Regions from separate parts of the Homo sapiens genome. Here region 1 is linked to region 2. Evidence: fine-mapped expression QTL. A gene starts in region 2. The other region holds a variant in brackets. All regions are shown on one strand. Distances are between the middles of the regions. Region 1 overlaps CAMK2G (calcium/calmodulin dependent protein kinase II gamma). Region 2 holds the start of ZSWIM8-AS1 (ZSWIM8 antisense RNA 1).

What was found. PIP is the estimated chance that this variant, and not a neighbour inherited with it, causes the effect. A credible set is the group of variants that fine-mapping cannot tell apart.
Region 1: its variant is the best candidate, but not a certain one, in a credible set for the expression of ZSWIM8-AS1 in whole blood (TOPMed, PIP 0.73).

Annotation. Positions count from the first base shown.
Region 1 is chr10:73,823,894-73,829,256 of GRCh38, forward strand. It overlaps CAMK2G (calcium/calmodulin dependent protein kinase II gamma), which reads right to left. Exons shown (of 23, transcript NM_001367534.1): 15 at 4,196-4,228; 16 at 1,386-1,454; 17 at 147-191. Among named protein-coding and RNA genes, the nearest start is that of NDST2-ZSWIM8-AS1, 15 kb to the left of the region's middle. The variant GC/G (reference allele first, on the strand shown) is at 3,057.
Region 2 is chr10:73,798,297-73,803,618 of GRCh38, forward strand. It overlaps ZSWIM8-AS1 (ZSWIM8 antisense RNA 1), which reads right to left and starts at 3,103. Exons shown (of 4, transcript NR_038357.1): 1 at 3,044-3,103; 2 at 2,207-2,263. It overlaps ZSWIM8 (zinc finger SWIM-type containing 8), which reads left to right. Exons shown (of 26, transcript NM_001367799.1): 20 at 1-157; 21 at 706-1,194; 22 at 1,715-1,874; 23 at 2,000-2,176; 24 at 2,344-2,463; 25 at 2,721-2,899; 26 at 3,020-3,497. The coding sequence ends at 3,223. It overlaps NDST2 (N-deacetylase and N-sulfotransferase 2), which reads right to left. Exons shown (of 15, transcript NM_003635.4): 11 at 5,278-5,322; 12 at 4,893-5,063; 13 at 4,676-4,785; 14 at 4,378-4,480; 15 at 3,620-4,280. The coding sequence ends at 4,155. NDST2-ZSWIM8-AS1 (NDST2-ZSWIM8-AS1 readthrough) reads right to left here. Exons shown (of 18, transcript NR_182658.1): 11 at 5,278-5,322; 12 at 4,893-5,063; 13 at 4,676-4,785; 14 at 4,378-4,480; 15 at 3,044-4,280; 16 at 2,207-2,263.

The sequences.
Region 1 (5,363 bases), 26 kb after region 2:
CATGGAGCAACTGTGGGCACAGGCTACCTTCAGCTGAGCCTCTGCAAACACCTTGGCCTCAGGGTGCAGCCTGTAGACCCCTGGGACCCAGCCCACCTGTCTCCTGCTGACCTGGAAAGCAGGAGGCAGGCTCAGGAGCCACTCACCTTGATCCCATCTGTAGCGTTGTGTACCACAGTGGTTTGTGGCTCCTGTGAGAGAAGATGAAGATTACCCTTCCGACTTGGGGACAGACTATGGCTCTTCCCTGAGGAGCCCCACCTGCACCCCAGGACCCCCGCAGACCCTATGATGACCACTGAGGCCTGCCCACCAGCCATCTCCAGAAGACAAAATATCCCGGCTCAACTGGGGTCCCGGGCAGCTGGGATAGCCCTGGATTTTGGCAGCAGCACTGGGCTGGTAAGAAAGAGAGGCCTGGCAGGTGCAGGTGCCCAGGAGGCTGACAGCAAGGGCCTCTGTCCCTGATTCCTGTCAGTTCTGAGGGCTCTTTCCACATGGGGTTCCCACGGGGCAGGTACACTAGAGGAGCTGTGGGACTGAGGGCACAGGCCGGGCCCCGCCCACAGCGTTCATCACGGGGAATGTGTGAGGCAGGAACATGGGCAGAAGAATGAGGTCTCCCAGAAAGAGCCAGGACAGGAGGCCCCCTCAGCAAGCTGAGCCCAGAGAGCTGCCCACTGCGCCCGCCTTCTGCCTTCCCTAGTTCCTGGCCCCACGCCGCCACGTCATGTGGTATGAGGGTCCGCAAGGAGGGGAGTAGCAGGCAACATCACCTCTCCCTCTTTCCCAGTCACCCCCCTGCTGACTCTCTAGTTAGCCACCACTAGCAGAGGGACCTCCAAGAGCACACAGAACCCCTGGAGGAGCCCAGAGAGAACTTAGCCAGCATGAGGCACTCCAGGAGCCTGGAGACCTCAGCACCATCCAGAGGTGGGGACCCCAGCCCTCTTTCCTGTTTCTGGCTTTGCAAAGGAGAGGCTGAGGCAGGTTTTACAAGGGGGCCTCCAAGAACTGATGTTCAGGTCCCAAGAAAGCTCCTACCCTCTCCTTTCCTAAGCAACTCACCTTCCCAGCCCCCACAGCAGACCCACTAGGGGTCCTGGGCTGGGCCTGGGAGGTTCAGCTGAGAGCCCTGATCACTCTTCCCCCCACCAGCGAAAGGAGCAGGAGCAGGAGCAGCACTTCTGCCATGCGGGATGGAGCGCGGCCAGGCGGGACAATGAAGGGGAAGGGGCATACAGGGCGGCACACAAAGCAGTCAGTTCTATGGGGACCAAGAAAGGAACAGGCCAGGAGGCCAGGGAGGGGGCACAAGAGGAGGAAGAGGGAAGGGGCAGGAGGCAGCCAGGGTCAGAGGCGGAGAAGCTGTAGTCAGGAGGTACCATGGCCGTCTGCAAGGGCGCGGGCTCTTGGGCTGGGCTTACGAGACTGTTTTTGTTGTTGCTCTGTGGCTGAGACAAGAAAACAGATGGTTTAGTTCCTCCAGAGTCCCCAAGGCCACTCAGGTTCAACTCCCAGACCTCCCTTGCCCCCTGGTCTGGCCTGGAGGAGGTAGGCCTGAGGTGGCCTCCATAACGCTGTGTAGATGGGAGCGATGGCTAGAGAGATGATCAGAGGAAGTATTTGTGGGGCCCAGAGACCTAGCTCTGGGGGCACCCTCAAGGTGGGACCAGCCCAAAGCCTTGTTTTAAAGCATCCCTCCAGAAATCTCTGCTTATGCCAGGTGCCAGGTCATTGCAAAATCCACACCTGACCCAAAGAAGTTCAAGATCTTCTTCCCACTGTACAGGAAAAAGGGGGGTAGTTTATAAGAAAGCAGAACAAAATTCAGAAACTCTGGTCCCCTATCTGTGGGCAGTCTCCTGCTGCACTTTCAACCCAGCACCTGTATTTCCTTCTTACAACACCAGCTCGAAGCCTGAAACAAAGAGGAAGGAGAAAAGAAAAGTATGCCTGGCCTAAGAGATGGTGTCCAGAGGATGGGGGTGGAAGTCCCTTTCAGACACAAAATGCATTCACTGACCTCAGGGAGCAGAGTCAGGACTGTGCTGTTCACCTTTTTGTCTGACAAATCTTAGGCCTGATCAGCTAGAAGGGCAGTGTTCCGGGGAGGGGCAGGTGAAACCCAGCGGGGCTGTAGCTGTAGTCCCAGAATCCAGCCCCCAGGACAGAGTAGGCCACACACAGGCCAACATTCCCAACAGCACCATGACCACCAGGGATATCTCCTTGCCTTTCAAAACTACATGGTGGTGGGTGGGCACGGTGGCTCACACCTGTAATCTCAGCACTTTGGGAGGCCAAGGCGGGTGGATCACCTGAGGTCAGGAGTTCAAGACCAGCCTGGCCAACATGGTGAAACCCCGTCTCTACTAAAAATACAAAAATTAGCCGGGCATGGTGGCACATGCCTGTAATCCCAGCTACTCGGGAGGCTGAGACAAGAGAATTGCTTGAACCTGGGAGGCAGAGATTGCAGTGAGCCAAGATTGCACCACTGCACTCCAGCCTGGGCAACAGAGCAAGACTCCATCTCAAAAAACCAAAAGCAAACGAACAAACAAAAACATTACACGGAGGGGCACAGCAAGGGAGGGGCAAGGGGAAGATGGAAGAAAGGAAGAAGGCTGATCTCCAGGGCAGGGAGCCATATCCATGTGATGTTCTTTGCCTCTGATAGTTCCCTAACCAGCGTACTCCATCTCACTGAGTTCCAGTGGGGTTGGGGGCCACTGAGGAGCAGCCTGATGCCTGCAAGTTCTTCAATAGGCAGTGAGACAAATGTGTGGCTACCATCCCTGCACAGGGCACAGATGATACATCGACAGCTAGAATGTGTGTCTTCTCTCCTAGGACATACACAGAAAGCATCCTGACTGTCCTACTTCTTGCCTGGAGGCCTCTTGGACCAGACCTGAAGCCGTCCACCGCCAGCTTGCTGTCAATGGCTCAGACATCCCCAAACCCAGGGCTAGGCATGGAACCTCAAGCCAGGCACCAAGTGACTCCACTGAACAAGACTCCACAGACTGCGACAGGCTAGAGAAGAGGGG[GC/G]CCAGGAGTAGTGAGACGGTGGGTCTAAACTCACGGGAGCTCTGCTGTCTCTCATTCCCACCAAGAAGCAAAGCCCACCTAGCTCAGTGAATGATGCTGACCTGTTCGGGGTTGGTTAGAGAGGGCTGCCCTACCTGTAAATCCCAGCTGAGGCCAAGACCCTCACAGGGGGCAAGGACTCCAGGGTGCCCACAAAACCTGCAGAGGGCTGGGATGTCACCCAAGTGGCCCCACCTCTGGTTTATTTATTTTTTGAGACGGAGTCTAGCTCTGTCGCCCAGGCTGGAGCGCAGTGGCGCGATCTCGGCTCACTGCAAGCTCCGCCTCCTGGGTTCACGCCATTCTCCTGCCTCAGCCTCCTGAGTAGCTGGGACTACAGGCGCCCACCACCACACCTGGCTAATTTTTTGCATTTTTAGTAGAGACAGGGTTTCACCGTGTTATGGTCTTGATCTCCTGACCTTGTGATCCACCCGCCTCGGCCTCCCAAAGTGCTAGGATTACAGGCGTGAGCCATCGCGCCCGGCCCCCACCTCTGGTTTTAATGGATGGTTTCATAATGACTCAGGCTGCTGTGTTGCCCTTGGTGCCCAGTGTCCCGTGAGAAAGATGAGTTAGCTGTCCCCCGAGGGCTGGGTGGGCAGAATAAACCACTGGGCACAGCTAGAGAGAATGGGATTTGCACGGGGGCAGAGCCAGGAGAGCGAGACTCACAAGTGGGAGCCTGCAACCAGCTCCTCTGCCCACCACACAGTTGCCCTCCAGCTGCCAGTCTGTAGGAAGCAGCTCCTCATGCCTGGGAAGCAGGGCCTCTCCTTCTGGGTGACAAGAGAGTGAGGGTCTCTCCCTTGCTTGCCCCAAGTCCCTACCAGCTTCACATCCTACCCTGGGTCGCTGGGGTCTGTCCAAGCTCCACAGCAGGGGGTGCCGTACCACCCCTTCCAATGTCCACTTTTTAGGCTACTGGGTGACCTTGGGCAATGGCCCCCGCCTGGCAGGACAGGCCACACCTGCCCACACAGCACAGACATGCAGTGAGGATGAGTGAGGCACACGCACGTGGCAGAACAGGTTTGCGTGGCTGGCAGGCGGGCACAGGCAGCATGGAGTGGGCGATGGGTGGGCAGGCAAGGCTCACCATTAGGTGCACGCTGGAACTCGACTTCCTTTTCTGGACACACCACAGCAAGAGGGAAAGAGAAGGGGAAAGAGGAGGTAAGAAGAGAAGCACAGAGACGCTGCAGGTTAGCGCACCAGTGTGGGCTCTGCATCAGGGAGAAAAGAGCGGAGGGAGACCCGGAGTCCAGCACCAGAGGGTTAAACAGCACACGGACCGACAGGCACTCACACCCTCCAGACCCTGGGAGGGAAGAACTCTTTTGTGGTCAGGTTCATAGACACAGATTTAGTATCTTCTGAGATGTCTCAGCCTTGCTCAAAAAAAGCCTCTTAAGGAGATTAAGACACAAGTCTGTGAGGTTAAGTATCATTTTGCTACAAATTTACAGGTCTGGGTTCATAGGGTTAGCTCACCCTGTAATGTTATTTATTTTCTCTCATTACTAGAACTGTCTGAAATTCAAGTGAGCAGCCACCAGGGAAAAAGCAAAAGCTACTACAGGCTCTCCTCAGCTCTAATAAAATTTGACTTCTGACTTCGCTGCATCCCTACTATGCTTTTTACATAAAGATGCTGAGCTTTTGAAAATCACCTAGCAGTTAAATGTTGGCCTTCCTTTGTCAGTATAGCCATGCTTGTTTACAATATTTGAATTTTTTATTGCATTTTGCAATTCGTGGAAAATAGAAACACAGGAGTGCCAGTGATTAAAACTACAGTGATCATAAAAATGCAGGGATGTAAGCCACAGGGAATGTTGAAAGCAGTGATTCCTCAGCCTCAACTAGATGCTCACGAACTTTACGTTCACATGTGAAACAGACGCATCAAGATGAAGACCACGTGGAACACTGAAAATATATCCCAGAAGACTGTGTCTAAAAAATGAAGGGTAATTATCAATGTCATCATTAGCTCACTGGGGGTAAGGTCCCCCTGTAATATGTCCGTCTGTCGTTCAACTTTTGCACATTCATTTAACAATGCCCAGCAAACACTGAGGGCTGTTTCAGGTAAACACAGCTGATAAACTGCTCCTGCCCTCAAGCGGCCAGCATTCTTTAGAAGGCATTTTCAGGGATTATTATTATAATCAACGAAAGAGGCTACAAATATTGACAATGGTCCATAATTTAGAATTAGATTTAAAGGAAAAGAAAAACCTAAATATAGTTAGGCCTCTTTT
Region 2 (5,322 bases):
ACCCCCTGAGGTTGCATCCCTGGCTGACAGGGCATCACGGGCAAGAGACTCCAATATGGTGAGGGCGGCAGCAGAGCTGGCCCTGAGCTGCCTGCCTCACGCCCATGCATTGAACCCTAATGAGATCCAGCGGGCCCTGGTGCAGTGCAAGGAACAGGTATTTCTACGGGCAATCTGGGAACCTCTTCTGGGGCATCTGGGCAGGGAGGTTGGGCATGGGAAAGCTAAGGGCCCAGCTCTTGATTCCCGTATCCTGGAGTTTACAGATGATTGTTGGTCCTCTCATGGCAACATTTTACCCATTAATGTGCTTTCACACCCATCTTTCCTTTACCTTACAACTCAAAGGTTAGGTTTATTTCTATTTTACAGATAAGGAAATGGAGGCCTACGGTTTAGGGACCAAGATGATCACTCAGGATAGAAAACTTAGGGAAGGCCTCATACATCTAAGACTTGAATGGGAGGGGGCTGTTAAATTAGTTTGGAACTGGGACTATAACCTGGGTCTTGACTCATTTTGGTCAGTATTTACTCAGTGTGTGAAGCACTCACTGCTCTGATAATGGACTCTAAGCATTGACACTGACCTCTGATGATTCCCTGGGAATGAGACAGCTCTGAGGGAGACATTGGAATCTCATCTAACACCTTCCATGTGGTAAAGGCCTTTCCCCCTTAACACTCTGTGCCCCTCTCTTCCAGGACAACCTGATGTTGGAGAAGGCCTGCATGGCAGTGGAAGAGGCAGCTAAGGGTGGGGGCGTGTACCCTGAAGTGTTGTTTGAGGTTGCTCACCAGTGGTTCTGGCTGTATGAGCAAACTGCAGGTGGCTCATCCACAGCCCGTGAAGGGGCTACAAGCTGTAGTGCCAGTGGGATCAGGGCAGGTGGGGAAGCTGGGCGGGGTATGCCTGAGGGTAGAGGGGGCCCAGGGACTGAGCCGGTTACAGTGGCAGCGGCAGCAGTGACAGCAGCAGCCACAGTGGTGCCCGTCATATCGGTGGGGTCTAGTTTATACCCGGGTCCAGGACTGGGGCATGGCCACTCCCCTGGCCTGCACCCCTACACTGCTCTACAGCCCCACCTGCCCTGTAGCCCTCAGTATCTCACTCACCCAGCTCACCCTGCCCACCCCATGCCTCACATGCCCCGGCCTGCCGTCTTCCCTGTGCCCAGCTCTGCATACCCACAGGTGAGACCAGTGTTCTGCTGGGGGGTAAGGCATGGGAAAATACTGGGAATTCATAGGGGGTTGGAGTGGGTACTCTGGGAGTATAATTGGTCAGTCGGAGAGTCCTGGTGAGGTGGTGGGAGTCTGGGGGACCCAGCCCAACTAAAATAAGAAATGACGGCCGGGCATGGTGGCTCATGCCTGTAATCCCAGCACTTTGAGAGGCCGATGTGGGTGGATCACTTGAGGTCAGGAGTTCGAGACCAGCCTGGCCAACATGGGGAAACCCCGTCTCTACTAAAAATTAGCTGAGTGCACGCCTGTAATCCCAGCTTCTTGGGAGGCTGAGATGGGAATCACTTGAACCTGGGAGGCAGAGGTTGCAGTGAGCCGATATCGTGCCACTGCACTCCAGCCTGGAGGACAGAGCGAGACTCTATCTCAAAAAAAACATGTCAGGATAGCAGCTTGTGGGGGTGAAGCACGACAGCAACATCCTAATCAAGTTTGGCATCTTCCCCTTTCTTCTCCCTGCCCCTAGGGTGTGCATCCTGCATTCCTAGGGGCTCAGTACCCTTATTCAGTGACTCCTCCCTCACTTGCTGCCACTGCTGTGTCTTTCCCCGTTCCTTCCATGGCACCCATCACAGTACATCCCTACCACACAGAGCCAGGGCTTCCACTGCCCACCAGTGTGGCCTGTGAGTTGTGGGGCCAGGGAACAGGTGAATGGAGGGGAGGCACACTGGGCAGGGGAGGTGGGGAGGGAATGTTCTTTGTCTCTCTTTGGGCTCTGAGTTCCTCACATGGCTCTCACCCCACTTAGTGAGCAGTGTCCATCCAGCATCCACGTTTCCAGCCATCCAAGGTGCCTCACTGCCTGCCCTGACCACACAGCCCAGCCCTCTGGTGAGCGGAGGTTTTCCACCGCCCGAGGAGGAGACACACAGTCAGCCAGTCAATCCCCACAGCCTGCACCACCTGCATGCTGCCTACCGTGTCGGTGAGAGGACATCCCTTTCTGTGCTCCTACCTGCAGTTGTGCCAGTGGCTCTTCAGAGGACCCTTCCTCTAGCTCTTCATTTGTTTACTGTGGGGTCAGGTGACAGGTTGGGGTAAAGGGTGAAGAGGATACACCGTACCATGTGCCCACCCTTATCTATCTCCCAGGAATGCTGGCACTGGAGATGCTGGGTCGCCGGGCACACAACGATCACCCCAACAACTTCTCCCGCTCCCCCCCCTACACTGATGATGTCAAATGGTTGCTGGGGCTGGCAGCAAAGCTGGGTAACACCTCCCCTCCCTAGGACCATTGCCCCCCCCCCACCTGCTCTCCCCACCTTCCTTATCCCAGACCTCCTTCCTAGCTCTTGCTCAGAGTTGAGGCCTTGGTCGGGTATGTGTGCGTGCGCGGGGGGCGGAGGGTTACCTCAGCTCCTGGGGTGGAGGGAGGCTCTCTGCCAGGCCAGAGCTGAGATCTGTAAGTTGGGTCCCTAGGGCAGAGGTGGCCACCCCCGTCTCATGCCCCTCCCCCTGCCCCCCAGGAGTGAACTACGTGCACCAGTTCTGTGTGGGGGCAGCCAAGGGGGTGCTGAGCCCGTTTGTGCTGCAGGAGATCGTCATGGAGACGCTGCAGCGGCTGAGTCCCGCTCATGCCCACAACCACCTGCGTGCCCCGGCCTTCCACCAACTGGTGCAGCGCTGCCAGCAGGCATACATGCAGGTGACAACCTAGAATTATGGAGCAGGGTGGAGCACTTCCTGGGTGGTCTTGGACCAGAGGGAGGCAGGGCCTGTTTCTGTGCTTTGTACTAAGGCTCATCCTGCACACATCCTCCTCCAGTACATCCACCACCGCTTGATTCACCTGACTCCTGCGGACTACGACGACTTTGTGAATGCGATCCGGAGTGCCCGCAGCGCCTTCTGCCTGACGCCCATGGGCATGATGCAGTTCAACGACATCCTACAGAACCTCAAGCGCAGCAAACAGACCAAGGAGCTGTGGCAGCGGGTCTCACTCGAGATGGCCACCTTCTCCCCCTGAGTCTTTCACCCTTAGGGTCCTATACAGGGACCCAGGCCTGTGGCTATGGGGGCCCCTCACACAGGGGGAGTGAAACTTGGCTGGACAGATCATCCTCACTCAGTTCCCTGGTAGCACAGACTGACAGCTGCTCTTGGGCTATAGCTTGGGGCCAAGATGTCTCACACCCTAGAAGCCTAGGGCTGGGGGAGACAGCCCTGTCTGGGAGGGGGCGTTGGGTGGCCTCTGGTATTTATTTGGCATTTATAAATATATAAACTCCTTTTTTACTCTAGTCGACCTGGGCCTTTCCCTTCTTTCCAAATTCCATGTGCAGATGAACCTTCAACTGGGGAGGAAACTTCTGACACTTGCTTTAGTCTAGGTTTTTCCCACTCCAGGGAGGCAGACAAAACAGAAAAATAAGGATGTTTATTAAGGACATTTCTAGCCCACAGCTAGGGCTCATACTCGGCTCTATGAGCCACTGTCCGACCTCATCCCCATTCAATGTGAATGACATTAGGGAGGCCGGGCCACAGGTAGATCCCACTGCCTGGCTAAAGGGGCCATAGCAAGGGGTCCCTCCCATGCAAGGGGTCTCTCCCATAGCCAGGTATAGAATAGATACACTGCTGCGGATGAAGAGGGAAATCTCATTGGACTAATACATTCCCCTACACCCTGCCTGGACCCTCTCATTCCTCCCCACCTCCCAAGATGATGGGTCAAAGGTACCTAGCACTATTATGTGGGGTACCAAAGGAAGCCCCTTTATTTGTCCCAGAACTGTGGGAAAAGGATACCCTTCCCTTCTCAGCCATCTCAGGCCTGGGGGCTACTGAGGTAGAGGGGGAGGGGCCAGGCCACTCTAATCCCCCTTGTGGGCCCTGCTCTGGACCTGCCCCTTAGGGAAGCAGGGGGCATTTTGCTGGTATGGGAGGCTGGGACATCAGCCCAGACTGGAATGCTGCAGTTCTTCCCGAAGCCACGAGGGCACTGGCTGTCCAAGCCGGCTCAGCAGCTTCGACAACTCCAAATTATGGTTCCGGAAAAAATCCGTAAGGAAAAGACGGGACTGACAGGAGAAAATGAAGGCAGAAATGGTAAGAAGTGGGACACAGAATCAGATCCTGGAAGTGGAGAGGGATTCCCCTGCCCCTGGCTTTACTTACCTCAGTGTCCATATCTGGATACCTCCGGCCTTTGCTCCGGCCTAGACAGCGAGTCTTACCACCTTCAAGTCCCTGGCACCAAAATCCCTTATCATCATCAAACCTGCTCAACAGGAAGAGGCCATGAGGTGGCAGGGAAAAGAGAAACTCAAGTTCCATAAATGCACAATGCCCTTCCCTGCCCACAGGGACATGTCTCTCCTTGTGAGACAGAGTAAATCTATGTCTCTAACAGACATGGTCAACCTGCTTCCCCATTTCCCATACAGTACTCCTCCCCTGGGTCATGCTCTCCCACCTGAGGGTCCGTGTGTAGTTCAGAAAGGGTGTGATACCCAGGAACTTCTGGATGCTCTCCATTGAGGCTGCTGGGTTGGTACGCAGCTCTTGCCCATCCACAATCAGCAACTAAAAGGACAGGGATGTGGTTCCCTCTATATTCCTAAGAAGCCTCTGGGCTGAAGGGAAGAAGAGGGGAAGGGGAACCCCACTGAGGGCTCTTGTGGGGATTATACCTGTCCAGAGGGGTAGTAAGTCAGCCAGCGTTGTAGATGGGTAGAATAGTAGCCAGGGACAAGACAGCGGTTCTGCAGGGAGCGTAGTGCCAGAGGGGTCTGGGAGGAGGCTGAAATCACCTGATAGAAGGTATAGTTCAGAGCAACTGGGTCTCCATGGGCTCGCTGATGCTGAAGGACAAAGAGAAGGAAGGTGAAGGACTGGTGATTTGACAGTATTCTGCCCTTACGCTTGGTCTGGAGACAGACAGCACAGCACGGGTACCCGTCCCCAAGGCACTAGTTAAGTTTCTCAAACCTCACTCCTTTCTCCCTCTCTAGCAGTCACTGTCCCCTCCCCCCTCCCCCCAACCTTTAGCCTGTGTGTCCCTAGCTTCAGGCAGACCTGGTACCAGGAGTAGGCCCTGTCAGCAGGGTTGGTGAGCACTGT